3 linked regions of the Homo sapiens genome follow. The protein of the gene in region 1 interacts with the protein of each later gene in a biochemical or structural test. Each region holds a gene or a part of one and is shown in the gene's direction. Other genes may lie near its edges.

Evidence for each region. Proteins that work in one complex are often made in the same cells at the same time.
Region 2: the proteins of WASL (region 1) and ARPC1B form a complex in vitro, tested with the Homo sapiens proteins (one study listed by IntAct).
Region 3: the proteins of WASL (region 1) and RHOQ form a complex in vitro, tested with the Homo sapiens proteins (one study listed by BioGRID).

What each region holds. Positions count from the first base shown.
Region 1 is NC_000007.14:123,738,189-123,743,573, reverse strand, and holds part of WASL (actin nucleation-promoting factor WASL), read left to right. Parts: intron 1-5,385. UniProt on the Homo sapiens protein: Regulates actin polymerization by stimulating the actin-nucleating activity of the Arp2/3 complex. Involved in various processes, such as mitosis and cytokinesis, via its role in the regulation of actin polymerization.
Region 2 is NC_000007.14:99,383,911-99,388,229, forward strand, and holds part of ARPC1B (actin-related protein 2/3 complex subunit 1B), read left to right. Parts: intron 1-1,791; 5' UTR 1,792-1,804; coding exon 1,805-1,868; intron 1,869-2,774; coding exon 2,775-2,879; intron 2,880-4,128; coding exon 4,129-4,319. UniProt on the Homo sapiens protein: Component of the Arp2/3 complex, a multiprotein complex that mediates actin polymerization upon stimulation by nucleation-promoting factor (NPF).
Region 3 is NC_000002.12:46,544,671-46,548,989, forward strand, and holds part of RHOQ (rho-related GTP-binding protein RhoQ), read left to right. Parts: intron 1-4,319. UniProt on the Homo sapiens protein: Plasma membrane-associated small GTPase which cycles between an active GTP-bound and an inactive GDP-bound state. In active state binds to a variety of effector proteins to regulate cellular responses. Involved in epithelial cell polarization processes.

The sequences.
Region 1 (5,385 bases):
ACTTAGGTAAATTAACAATTTTAAAGTCAGTTAATTATAGGTGTGTAAATTAAAAGTTAAGGAGCAGCTTGAATGTATCTCTTTGGGGAGTGTCTGGGCAGCCTGAGCCTCCCTGGCTGCTAATTGAAGAGGAAGAAAGGGGTCCTGATGAAAAAGTTAGGAGTTCCTGAATTTTAGTCCATGCTCTGCTACCATACATTGTGAATATGAACAGGAATTTTTTTTTTTTTTTTTTTTGAGACAGAGTCTTGCTTTGTCGCCAAGGCGGGAGTGCAGTGGCACGATCTCGGCTCACTGCAACCTCGGCCTCCCAGGTTCAAGTTATTCTCCTCCCTCAGCCTCCCAAGTAGCTGGAACTACAGGCGTGTGCCACTACCCCTGGCTAATTTTTGTATTTTTAGTACAGACAGGGTTTCACCATGCTGGCCAGGCTGGTCTCGAACTCCTGACCTCAGGTGATCTGTCCGCTTCAACCTCCCAAAGTGCTGGGATTACAGGTGTGAGCCACTGTGCCTGGCCATTTCTCCCTTCCTGAACTTCACTTTTCTAATTTGAAAATGAAGGGTCAGACAAGATAACTCCACAGTCTTTCCAGCTTTAATGCTTAATCAGTTTAACTATTCTAGATTCCAGGGACTCTAGCAGGGAAAGAACAGGCCTAATGTTAACTCTAGCATATATGTGTTTTGCACAGCCGAGACTAATATAGCATATATCTAAGCAGAAGGTAGATAATCCTGAATTATTTCATTGAAAATTCCCATTTTTAATTCACCTTTTTCTAAGCATTGTAATTTAATAGGCATTTCACTTTTAAAACAGCAGAGTGAACAGAATAAAAAAGCATTAGTAGTAGAATTACCAACTCTTAGCTAACTTAGAATTATTATTTGTAATTATAATGTATTTTTGGGTTATTAGAAACTGCTTTTTTGGTTAAGATGGAATTATTTTTAAGAATTTCTCTTTTGTTAACCAATTCCATCTAGAATCCTAATTCTGGATGAAATTGTATTAGTGATATGATAGGTGTTACATGTTACTGCTTATTTTCCAATATTAAAAAAATCGGTTTTTAGTTTCAGTGGTAGACTTAATAGTTATAGTGAATTGACTTGGTTACTTTAGAGACTGATTCAAGATTGAGGTTACTGTGGGGATTCATTTGTGTGATTAAAATAATCTTGGTTTTCTTAAATTTTTTTGTAATGCACTGGACAACATGCTGAAATTATGGCTTATTATATTAGTGAATTTTGTATTCCTGAAACAGCATACCAAGAGACACTAGAACCTTTGACAGAACTTTTCTGAAACCCAAATGAATGCCAAAATTAGGCATGCTTTTAAGATGCAAAGGGCTGGGTTTTATCTTTTACTGTCTTTCTTGCTTATTCAACTTCTGTTCTTGCTGTGCTCTGGATATTAGAAAGCACAGCTCTTGAGGAAAAGATGTGACTGGGCCTTTTGAACAGTGTCTCTTTCACCAAGTTCTGCCAGTCACTCTTTGGCCATCTCTCTGTTGTGGACAGTTGTAGGGATTTTATTTAAAATATACTATTTTTTTAAAAAGTTATCTTTTAATGTAAAAATTGTATCTATGAGTAATATCAGATTATAAAGTCTGGAAATAAAGTCTTGATTAGAGAGCAGGTTTGATTAGGACATTCAGGATTCCTCATAACATATAGAATTGGAGCTACTTAAGCGTTGGCCAAAGTACAGAGGAGCCGGGTTCTATTTGTTTTGCTGCTGAGCAATTCCTACCATGTGTATCAGTATTCTAGTCTTCTATAGTAAGATTTTTAAAAAGTCTTTATAAAAACTGGTAAGAGCAAAACTTTCCTAAGGAAATGCATGCTTGTAGTAATCTCATGTATTTCACTTTTGTCCATATTCTATAGATTTTTTAAATAAATAATATTAATGGAAGTATAATGGTAGCCCATTCTAGTTTTGAGTAGAAAAACAGATTTTAAAAGAGCAGATAAGGGTTGAACTTTGTTATAATTTATTCTGTCTAGAAGTCATAGCTTTCCTAATAGAGTTCACTCTTACTCTAAAGGTTCTAGAAACAAAAGTTTATACATTCATAGTCACAGTAATAGGATATACATTGTTAACTATAAATATAATTCTTATAGGTCACCTAGCATCGTTGATGGATTCTTGGAAACTGTGACTTTAGGTGAAACAACACATAATGAAACCAGTTTTACCATAGGGTAATTGATATAAACAAGAGCTAAGTTTCTGTAGCATATATCACCAAACTTCTAAATAAAGACAAAAACACTTCTAATATTAATTAATGAAATAAATGTGAGCTGTAACACATTTAAGAAAGAGTAATAAAAACAAGATAATTATTTACCCAGTTACTTCACTTCAGTCTCAGGTGGCTGGAGCCTATCCTGGCAGCTCAGGGTACAAGGCAAGAACCAACCCTGGACAGGACATCATCCCATCGCAGGGTGCACTCATACCTACACCCACAACTCACTCGCACACTTGCTCATCCTGGGATAATGTAGACAGACCAGTGAACCTAACATGCACATTTTTGGGATGTGGGAGGAAATCCAAGTACCCAGAGAACCCAATAGACATGGGGAGTACCTGCAAACTCCACACAGACAGTGACCCCAGCTTGAAAATGATTTTCTTTTCTCATCAAAGTTAATAATGGGCTGGACGTGGTGGTTCACACCTTTAATCGCAGCGCTTTGGGAGGCTGAGGCAGGAAGATCACTTGAGGCCAGTAGTTTGCCACCAGCGTGGGCAACATAGACCTAATCTCTACAAGAAAAAGTAGCTGGTAGTGGTGGCCCATGTCTGTAGTCCCAGTTACTCCAGAGGCTGAGGCAGGAGGTTCACTTGAGCCCAGGAATTCAAGGATGCAGTAAGCCATGATGAGGGCATTGCACTCCAGCCTGGGCAACATAGGAAGACCTGGTCTCTTAAAAACAAAAAAAAAAGTTATGATGAAAGGACATTGAACAAAATGATGTTGAACAAAAGGATGTTATTTGAGGACCTGCTGTATTAAGTATTTAGTAATTAGGAGACATTTGGCATGCTTAACCATATTCATAAATATAGTGTAATACAAAATAAATCTTATTTATTGCATCTATGTTAGTAGTCTCAGAAGTATTCGAGAGTTATACTGATATAATAGCATATAGGAGAGTAAAACTAATTAGAAAACATTATTTTCTCATAGGAGTTAATGCACTGTAGAGGAATTGTAACCCTTTTTTTAAAGAGACCAAATAATTGACTGTAATGTTGAAGAGGTAAATACAGAAAAGCCCCTCAAGAAAATGTGATCAAATGAAAGATATATATATAAAAGATAATATATGAGATATATCTGACATATGTATGAGATATATATGTCTTATCAATCAACTCCTTTACTAATACATAAACTGATGCATAAACTAGCTAGAAACTGAAATGATTTTTATTAGTGAAACGTAGTCAAGTCTTGAGGACTTACTAAGCACATAACACCCTCCCAGTATCTTGGAATATGAGGGAGCAGTAAGGAAAATCCAGGTTTTACCCCTCAGTTATTCACTGTATAGCTGAAGAAGACAAAAATTATGCACAAAAAGATATATGCTGCAAACCAGCATATATATATATATATACACACACACACACACACACACACACACACACACACACATATATAAATGTATAAAAGATTTGAATAATAGAGAGGAGAGATAGGTATATCATTGTGGGACTTGAATATGAAAAACCTTAAATAGCCTAGAGAATTGATGTCAGAAACAAGCAGCTTATCAGGTACAGATGCTCTTCTACTTATGATGGATTATGTCCTGATAAACCTGTCGTAAGTTGAAAATGTTGTAGTCAAAAATGCATTTAACACACCTAACCCACCAAACATTATAGCTTAGCCTAGCCTTCCTTAAATGTGCTCAGAACATTTACAATAACCTACAGTTGGGCAACCTGATGTAACACAAAGCCCATTTTATAATAAAGTGTTGAATATTTTACATAATTTGTTGAATACTGTACTGAAAGTACAAAACTAAATGGTTGCATGGGTACTCAAAGTATGGTTTCTACTGAATGCATATTGCTTTCGCACCATTGTAAAGCTGAAAAATTGTAAGTGGAACCATCATTAGTTGGGGAGTGTTTATATCAGGAAATGTGTAAACAAAAGTTTGGGATAGAAAATGTGTATAGAATTTTAGGAGGCATTGAGGAGACTGGTTGGCTAGAATTGAGAATGACATTTGCTTGGGCAGATAGTGGATGGTAAGTTTGAAGAGTAAATTGAGGCTAGATTTTGGAAGACCTTTGAACTTCAAGTCTTAAGGATTGAACTTTATTCCCTAGAAAGTAAGGAAACACTAAGATTTCTTCAAGAAATTTCAAGATAGGAAGGATCTGGAGAAAGAAAATTGGAAATTATTATTCATAATAGAAATAAGGATTGAGTAATACTTTATTGTTTACTAAATTTCTTATTTATTAGTTCAGCACATCAGATCTGACTAAGAAACCTGGAATTGTGGCAGCTTCTAGAGCAAGCTTGTCCAACCTGCGGCCCAGGATGGCTTTGAAGGTGGCCCAATCCAAATTCATAAACTTTCTTAAAACAGTTTGAGATTTTGGGTTTTTTTTTTGCAGTTTTTTGTTTTTGTTTTGCTCATCACCTATCATTGGTGTTACCGTATTTTGTGTGTGACTCAAGACAATTCTTCTTCTTCCAATGTGGCCCAGGGAAACCAAAAGATTGGACACCCCTGATGTATAGCAAAAAAAAGGACTAAGTCCTTGATGTATGTGTCCATGGCAGACACCAACAATCACAGCATTTTTTCCTACTGAGTTCAGACATGGTTTCTAACTACCTGTTGTATTCCTAGAGGCAACCACTACCAATTGTCCAGGTTCACGATAGATGAAATCTAGTTGTCATTCCAAGGCTAGATACCAGAAACGTGAAGAAAAAATTGGCAATATTTAATTGGCTTGTGAATTCTGGATGACAACAAAACCTCATACTATAAATGGCTAGATAGTAGGAACTAGAACTTTGGACTCTAGTGTTGATTATTGCGGCTGTGGGAGTGGGATTAGATCTGTGAAGGTGTCAAGCTCAAGATTACAGAGGGAACAGTCTAGCTAATGTTTTACTTGGCCAGCAGCATTGGAAGAGGATGGCTTTGGCCAAGTGCTAAAGTGCTATTCTCTTTAATTTGCTAGAAACATGGTATACATATTGTTCTGCAACTTAACTTTTTCACTTTTATTAATATATATAAATATATATTTCCATGTTTATATCTGTTGCATCCTTTTTATTAATATATTACTGCCTTATATCAAGTT
Region 2 (4,319 bases), about 24 Mb from region 1:
CAGCTCTCAGCATCTCTGCTGGGAGGCAGGATTCCTGTTCCCATTTTACAGATGAGAAAACTGAGGTTAAAAGAAGGCAGGTGATGTGTCCCGGGGCATGTGGCTGGGCAAGCAGTGCCACTGGGCTCCTCCACTTCCAGGTCCCTGTGATGCTGGGAAACTGAGTCACGGAGGCGGGGAGAGATGTGTTTGAGGAATTGGGCTGAGACCGTGATCTCACCCCCGTCAGGCCTGGTGGGCTCCTTTGACACTCAGCGGCAGGTGGAGGAGGCTAGGGACAGGCTGGCAGGGGCTGAGCTGGGCTGACGGGAGGATGAGTCGCTGCCCTCTGCCAGGGTTCCCCTTCAGTGCTGGGGCTAGTCTAGAGGGCTGCAGTCAAACATCTCCCTCGTTCTGGCCGAGTGTAGTGGCTCACACCTGTAATCCCAAATACTTGGCAGGTGAGGAGGGAAGATCTCTTGAGCCTAGGAGCTTGAGACCAGCCTGGACAGCATTGTGAGACCCCCCTCTCTACAAACAAATCAAAAATTAGTTGGGCACAGTGGCACATGCTTGTAATCCCAGGAGTTCATGGCTGCAGTGAGCCATGATCACACCACTGCACTCCATCCTGGGCCACAGAGAGAGACCCTGTCTCAAGAAACAAAAATCTCCCTCCTTCAGTTCCCCAAGGCTGGGTCACCCTGGGGCCTCCCCAAGAGCCATCACCCAGGCCTCGCCTAGCCCTGTGCCTCCTCCCAGCCCTGGGTGCAGCCAGTGGATGTCTGGATGGAGAATGGGATGTATCTGTTAAATATCTGCCTTTGCCTCAGCCATGAGCCCCTGCAGACCGGCCACCTCCCTTCTCCCCGTCTGAGCAGTGTGGGGGAAGACCAGGGCTCTGGGCACGGCAGGGCCAACTGCCATGTGCTGGACACCTTTCTAGGTGGTTTATGAGATTACTTCATTTCTTTTTTTTTTTTTTTTTTCTGAGATGAGTCTTGCTCTGTCACCCAGCCTCCTGAGTAGTGGGGATTACAGGCAGGTGCCACCACACCTGGCTAATTTTTTTTTTTTTTTTTTTTTTTTTTTTTGAGACGGAGTCTCACTCTGTCGCCCAGGCTGGAGTGCAGTGGTGCGATCTCGGCTTACTGCAAGCCCCGCCTCCCAAGTTCACGCCATTCTCCTGCCTCAGGCTGGGACTACAGGTGCCCGCCACCACACCCGACTAATTTTTTGTAGTTTTAGTAAAGACGGAGTTTCACCATGTTGGCCAGGCTGGTCTTGAACTCCTGGCCGCAAGTGATCCGCCTGCCTCGATCTCCCAAAGTGTTGGGATTACAGGCATGAGCCACCGGGCCTGGCCTGGATGACTTCATCTTCATCCCATCCTTAATGGGGCAGGGGAAGTTGGGTGGGGGGGGGGGGGTCGTCCATCCTATGAGGAAACCGAGGCACAGATGACAAGTGAGGGGCCTGTCCAGCTTGGAGTCCTAGCACCCCACCCCGCCCCAGGGAGCATCTCCCCTGTAGTACCGTCTCCTCCACCCTGTCCCTGGAGCCTCAGAGACATCCTGTGAAAGCTGCCCTTTTATAAGGAGGGAAACTGAGGCCCCAGGAGGGGAAGCAACATGTCAGGCCAGTTGGGAGCCAGGGCTGGCCCCTGCTGCTCCTCTCTGCAAACTGCTGCCCCTCTAAACTGAGGGGCCTCCCTGGTGTGAGGCCTGTGAGGATCATCTGGGGCCTGGTATGGGTGAAGTCAGGGGCAAGGTTGGGGCTGACGTGGATTCTCTCTTCCTCTCTCGGGCACAGGAGCCAAGCCGCCATGGCCTACCACAGCTTCCTGGTGGAGCCCATCAGCTGCCACGCCTGGAACAAGGACCGCACCCGTGAGTGCTTGCTGGGGGCCGGTGGGTGGCTGCTTCCACCTCCTGGGATGGGGACCAGCCAGAGCACACATGGGGACTCTGGAGCAGCCAGGCCCCCGGACCATGGGCTCCATGTGGCTGTCCCCTGGCCTCACCCCTGGGTCTTCCAGCTGACCAGGGGCCTCCTGGGTTAAAGTTTAAGGAGGGAATGGGCCAGTTGCGGTAGCTCATGCCTGTAATCCCGGCACTTTGGGAGGCTGAGGTGGGTGGATCACTTGAGGTCAGGAGTTCCAGACCAGCTTGGGCAACATGGTGAAACCCTGTCTCTACTAAAAATACAAAAATTACCTGGGCGTGGTGGTGGGTGTCTGTAATCCCAGCTACTCGGGGGGCTGAGGCACGAGAATTGCTTGAACCCAGGAGGCGGAGGTTGCAGTGAGTCGAGATTGCACCACTGCACTCCAGCCTGGGCAACAAAGCGAGACTCTGTCTCAAAAAAAAAAAAAGAGAGAAAGAAAGAAAGAAAAAGTGACCAAGAAAAAGCCTTTCGGAGGAGATGACATTTTGACATTTACCCAGAGACCCAGAGGGGGAGAGGAAGGGAACTGTGCCCCAGCTGGGGAGGGGCTGGCAGGTGCAGGGGCCCTGAGGTGTCAGCAGGAGCAGCGAAGGGTTCCTGGTTGGCCAGAGCAATAGGGTGGGGAGAGGTCCCAGGGTTCATTGCTGCGAGTAAAGGACAGCCAGTTCCAGGAGAAGACAGGGTGGCCTAGCAGGGCCTGAAGGACTTCAGGGGGCCCCTGCAAGGCAGAAGAGGAGAGACTGAGTCATGAAAGGTGAGGTGTTGTTGCCTAGGTGCACTGTGTAGTGTGTCCTGGCAGAGGGCAGTCATGGAGAGGGCCCCTCAATCTCCCTCCATCTCCCCTTCAGAGATTGCCATCTGCCCCAACAACCATGAGGTGCATATCTATGAAAAGAGCGGTGCCAAATGGACCAAGGTGCACGAGCTCAAGGAGCACAACGGGCAGGTGACAGGTATGTCAGGGTGGCTGGGACCACCGTCCTGAAAGGAGGTGGTGGGTTGGGGGGGTGGTGCAAGGCAGGGCATGGCCACTCATTGTGGAGCATCTGCCCACTCACCGTGAAACCCGGATTCAAACTGGCTTCAATTTTAAGGGGACTGTGTTGGCTCATGTTACCAAAAACTCACAGGGTTGAGGGCTTCAGGAGAGGCTTGATCCAGCAGCTCCACATGACCAAGAACCCATCTTTTCTGCCTCTTGGCTTTGCCCTCCAGCATGTTTGCTGATAGCATGGAGGGCTCTGACACTCCCTCATAAGCTCTAGGAGTGCCCCCTGGTGTCACTCTAAATAAGCACTGGATCTCAGTAAAAAGTGCTTGCTGGGCCGGGTGCAGTGGCTCATGCCTGTAATCCCAGCACTTCAGGAGGCCAAGGCGAGTGGATCGCTTGAGGTCAGGAGTTCGAGACCATCCTGGCCAACATGACTAAATGTTGAAAAATACAGAAATTAGCCGGGTGTGGTGGCACGCACCTGTAGTCCCAGATACTCTGGAGGCTGAGGCAGAAGAATCGCTTGAACCCAGGAGGCGGAGGTTGAAGTGAGCTGAGATTGCACCACTGCACTCCAGCCTGGATGGCAGAGCGAGACTGTGTCGCAATAAAAACAAAGAAAGAAAGAGGCCGGGTGCGGTGGCTTGCGCCTGTACTCCCAGCACTTTGGGAGGCGGAGGCGGGCGGATCACCTGAGGTCAGGAGTTCAAGACCAGCCTGGTCAACATGGTGAAACCTCATCTCTACTAAAATACAAAAATTAGCCAGGCATGATGGCGGGTGCCTGTAATCCCAGCTACTTGGGAGGCTGATATGTGAGAATTGCTTGAACCCGGAAGATGGTGGTTCCAGTGAGCTGAGATCGTGCCAGTGCACTCCAGCTTGGGCGGCTGAGCGAGACTCTGTCTCAAAAAAAAAAAAAAAAAAAAAAGATTGGTGGTACACACCTGTAGTCCCGGCTACTCAGGAGGCTGAGGCACGAGGATTGCTTGAACCTGGGAGGCAGAGGCTGCAGTGAGCTGAGATCATGCCACTGCACTCCAGCCTGGGTGACAGAGCGAGACTCTGTTTCAAAAAAAAAAAAAAGTGCCTGCTGGGCAGATACAGCTTCCACCTGGATGGTGGCCTTTCAGCCTCTCCCATGTGGCCACCATACAGCCACCTCTGCCTGAGTGTCATCAGCCTCCTGTGTTCCCTCCATCCCCCCACAGGCATCGACTGGGCCCCCGAGAGTAACCGTATTGTGACCTGCGGCACAGACCGCAACGCCTACGTGTGGACGCTGAAGGGCCGCACATGGAAGCCCACGCTGGTCATCCTGCGGATCAACCGGGCTGCCCGCTGCGTGCGCTGGGCCCCCAACGAGAACAAGTTTGCTGTGGGCAGCGGCTCTCGTGTGATC
Region 3 (4,319 bases), on another chromosome or scaffold:
GATGAATTTTGTAGAATCCAGCACTATGATTAGAGTTGAAGACTCTGGCAGAAGTTTCCACATGTCATACAGACTTACATCCTTGAGAACACAGGAGCAGCTGAAAGTCTTAGAGAATGTCTTTGGGGGAAGTCCAGTAGTAGAATTTCCTTATCTGCAAAATGGGGTTTAAAAAAATAAGATGATCCCCTGGTGCAGATATTGTATGGCAAATGTTTAGCATTGAACCTGGCACACACTAGGTGCTCAATAAAGGGAGTGATGTACTTTGAAGCTTGTCTAGATTTGGATTTCAGAACTGTGATTAGAGTTTAGGTTGGATTCTGAAACATGCCTTATTGAGGGGGAGTGCCTTGATGTGACCTCTGGTTTCTAAACTGTTAGAGGAACGTCTGAAGATAGAGAACTGCTGGCAGTTCAAGGTCCCTGAGACCACCCCCTTTCACCAAAATGGCCCAGGTCAGTACAGCCAGTTCTCAGCTCTCCTGGGCCCCCATTGGTTGCCTGCCCTGTAGTCGTTATTCCTTCTACCTTCATTGGAGGATGTGGAGGGCAAGGGGCAGAGCTTGCTCAATCAACTAAGACTGACTTTTAAGTCGTATTATTGATAAACAAGAGGTTGACCTTATTGGTTGAAAAGAGGAAGCTTTTAAAAAATCGCCTCTAATTTGAACTTCTCACTACCTTCCTTTCTCTTATCTCCTTTACTTGTGACCATGATAATTTTTGACCGCACTCCCTGTTCAACAGGATGTGTGTAGTCAGAGCTGTTCTGAGTATGTTTAAACCCTGCTAGTATTTACTGAGTTTTTTCCTACATATGGGGCCAGAGGCAGACACATGCAAATATTATTTTATTTAGTCCATAAAACAACCCCATGAGATAGGTGGTATTTCATCTTTGCGGTGAGGAAACAGGCTCAGAGAAGCTAGGTTGCTTGCCTGAGGTCACACAGCTACTGAGGGGTGTTGCTAGGATTGGGACAGGGGTCTGAATCTGCTCCAGTTTGAAGTAGTTATACACACAGGACACCATGGGAATGCTGAGATGCCACGGGGTTGATTGGATTGTTTGTGCATCCATAGTTGTGGTACCTGTAATCTTCACAGCCATTCTCTGAGTGGGTGTTGGATGGCACCTCTACAGAGGAGAGAACTTAGATCCAGAGTCACTTGAAGTTGACCCCACTTACAAAACCAGGGCTTTCCATATATGGCCGTAATTACTCTTTTTAGTGGAGGATCATAAGATATAGACCAAGCAGGATGAACATATTAGTAAGGCTCAAATACTACTGTTTTCACCCAATGCTGGACACCATTGGTGGGGCCTAGATGTGTGTTAGGCCCCATTGGTGTTTTTCCCAGTGTCTAGACTTTTGTTTTTGCATCAAAGCTAGTAATATTTCATCTCCCAGCATTTGAGGGTTTATTACTAATAAGCAACTTAGCAATGATGAGACCAAATGGCAAGTGCCTGCTGTGTACCTGGTACTATGTCCAGGTACTTTTGCACCTGGGGAGTGCAAAGGAATGAATTTAAAATGGGGATCTACCACAGCTGATGTCAGCAAAGGGAGAAATGTCTGTCTCGGGTCTCTGTTCATGTGTTACATAGGAGATCTCTACATTGCACTTGGTCATTAAGACCTCAGGCTTCTAGGAATCCATATCAGATTTGTCTTACAATAATAACAATGATAAATAAACATGTAAATAAAAAGTAAATAAAAAACATTAAGGGTTTATATATATATATATGTATCCGTATACACATATACATATATATATATATATATATATGTGTATATATATATATATATATATATATATATATATATGTATATACATATATATATATACACAAATCCTTAAGCCTAGTGGGCAGCAGAGAAAGGTCCATGGGCTTTGGAACAAAACAGGCCTGGGCTCAGATCTCCACCTTAGCTAGTCATGTGATTCTAGCTAAATTATTTACCTTTGTGATCTAGTAAAAACGTGAATAATTAGAATCTGCATTACAAGGTCATAGGCTGGCTTAAACTCTTTAACATATTTAAAAGCAGCTGATACTTTGTGCATAGTGGGTGAGTGACAAATAGTACAGGAAATTATTATATTCCACTATGGGGAGTTTTGTGGGGAGAAAGGTTCACAGAGTGGAAGAGAACAGTATATTGTGCCTGGAGTTGATAGAAATTCCACTAGAATGCCAGATCCTAGAACCTTTTCAACCAAGGTGTGCAACAGCTTTGCGCATTGTAATTCCCATAGTCCCTATTGTGGGATCCATGGTTCCAAGCCCAGTGCTCCCTGCCGTAAATGCCCTGTTGTATCAGATGGTTTTCTGTCTTAAGCAGAGCCCGTATCCCCATTGATAGAAGAGAAATAGCTTAGAGTTCCATGCAGAATTTGACAGACAAGTAGGGTATGTAGGCTTCAGTTGGTTCTACTTTCAGAGAGTTAAGATGGAATGAGGCAGCTCATGGCACTACAGGTCAGTTGCCTTCTCTCCAAAATGTTCACTCATGCATGTGGGCACTCATTGTATTTGAATAACAGCAACAGTGCCTCCCTCAGTTTGGAACCTCTAGTCCACTTGCTCACTCATGGTCCCTGCCTTAACCCCAGTCAAGTTCAAAGCCATAGGCATCATTTGTCCGACTGACATATTAGGGCATCTACCAGTCAAAGGGTGATTGTTGTAGATGACCTTTGGCCTTCTAGAGCAGGCTGCTTTCCACTTGACCTCTGCTGCTATTAGCAGACAAAGAGAGAGAATGGGAGAGAGAGTGTATTGGACTTCAGTCCCCATCATGTGCACTGCCTGGGGACATCCCAGCACACTCAGAGCACCACTGCCAAAGGGAACACTTCCCCTCTGTTGGCCAAGCCCATGGGTGGTCCAGGAGCAGCTGTCACATTTTGACTGCCAAGCATTTTGGAGTGGAAGTTGACCGAGGCATCTTCCTTCTCACTAGGGGCCTTGCGTGTGTTTTGGGGGTGAGGGGTTGGCTTCCTGCCTGGGCCTCTGTGGAGCTTCTCCTTTCTTGCCCAGCCTTCAGGACTTCAGTGTAGGCTCTGCAGCAACCCCATTGTCTGCTCAAGGAGGGACTGGAGAGATGGGATTTTCCCTCCTGCTACTGCACTGTTTGGAGCGATGGGAAGTGGAAAGAGCTCTCCCTCTCTGTCCAGACAGGCCAGTGGGGAGCTGCCTGGCAAGCTGCTCTCTAGCTGTGGGCTCTAGGCTGATCTCTTAATCCTTGGCAGGAAGGCAGAACTTGATACCCTGGAGAGGGAAGGACTGAAGCCCAGTTTATTCAGGTCCCAGAATATCCACACTCAGGAGGATGTGTGTTGGGGGTGAATTTGGGATCCCTAGAGTTCCAGATTTAGCCACTGTCTCAGTGTGTGGAAGTCAATTTGTGTGCTTTGGGATGTATTGTTTCTATGTCTGTTAACTTAAACACACAAGTTCAGGGAAGCGTCCATGACAGCTATAAATATCTTTTACTCTGGTGTCCCTTGGTGTTGCTTTTTCAATGACAAGTGAGATTTGTTTTACACTTGATATAACCCAGCAGCTGTGGCTGCCCTGCATGCCCTCTGGGTGCCCACAAGGCACTTCCCCTACAGAAGGGAATCTCCACCGGAGGCAGGCTTGGCATGCCCCACCTTCTGCATTTTAGCAGAAGGGCCTGGCATGATGAGAAAAGGGAAGGAGAAAGGGCCATGGGATCACCACTCACCAGGCTCCTCCCACCTCCAGGCAAGTCATCCTCACAACACCCTTCAAGGTAGACTTCTCCCAGATGAGGAAATTGGGAACAAGTGGGCTTATGGGAACCAGACAGAGATGTGATTAGGAAAAAGGTTTTCTACTTTGGAGAAGGCCTGCAGGGAACATTAGTAGGGTTTAGGAAATGCCACTCACAACATCAGACTCTGGGTCCTTGTAGCCCCGTGTTCCATCCTTGCTCAGCCCGGTGAGCAGAGCCTGGGAGGAGCCCCAGGGTTCCTTCCAGGCATCAGCTGCAACAGGTGAGATGCTGGCACTGAGCATCCTGGTTTCCCTTAGTAACCTACTGTAGATTTGTCATGTGTGCATTTTGCTAACCTTTTTAGAAGCTATTTATATCTCTAGCCCACACCGCATCACACGGGAATGCTGGTTTCCTCCTCTGCGTTGGGAAGGTGGATAGCCTTTGTTGACTCCAAAGCCTTTGCTGTGTTCGCTCCAAAGTCTGAATGCCCTGTGTTCCCCTCCTTGGGACTCTGATGTGGGTTTGGGTTATGCCAGCTTAGACTGTGGGCTGGCA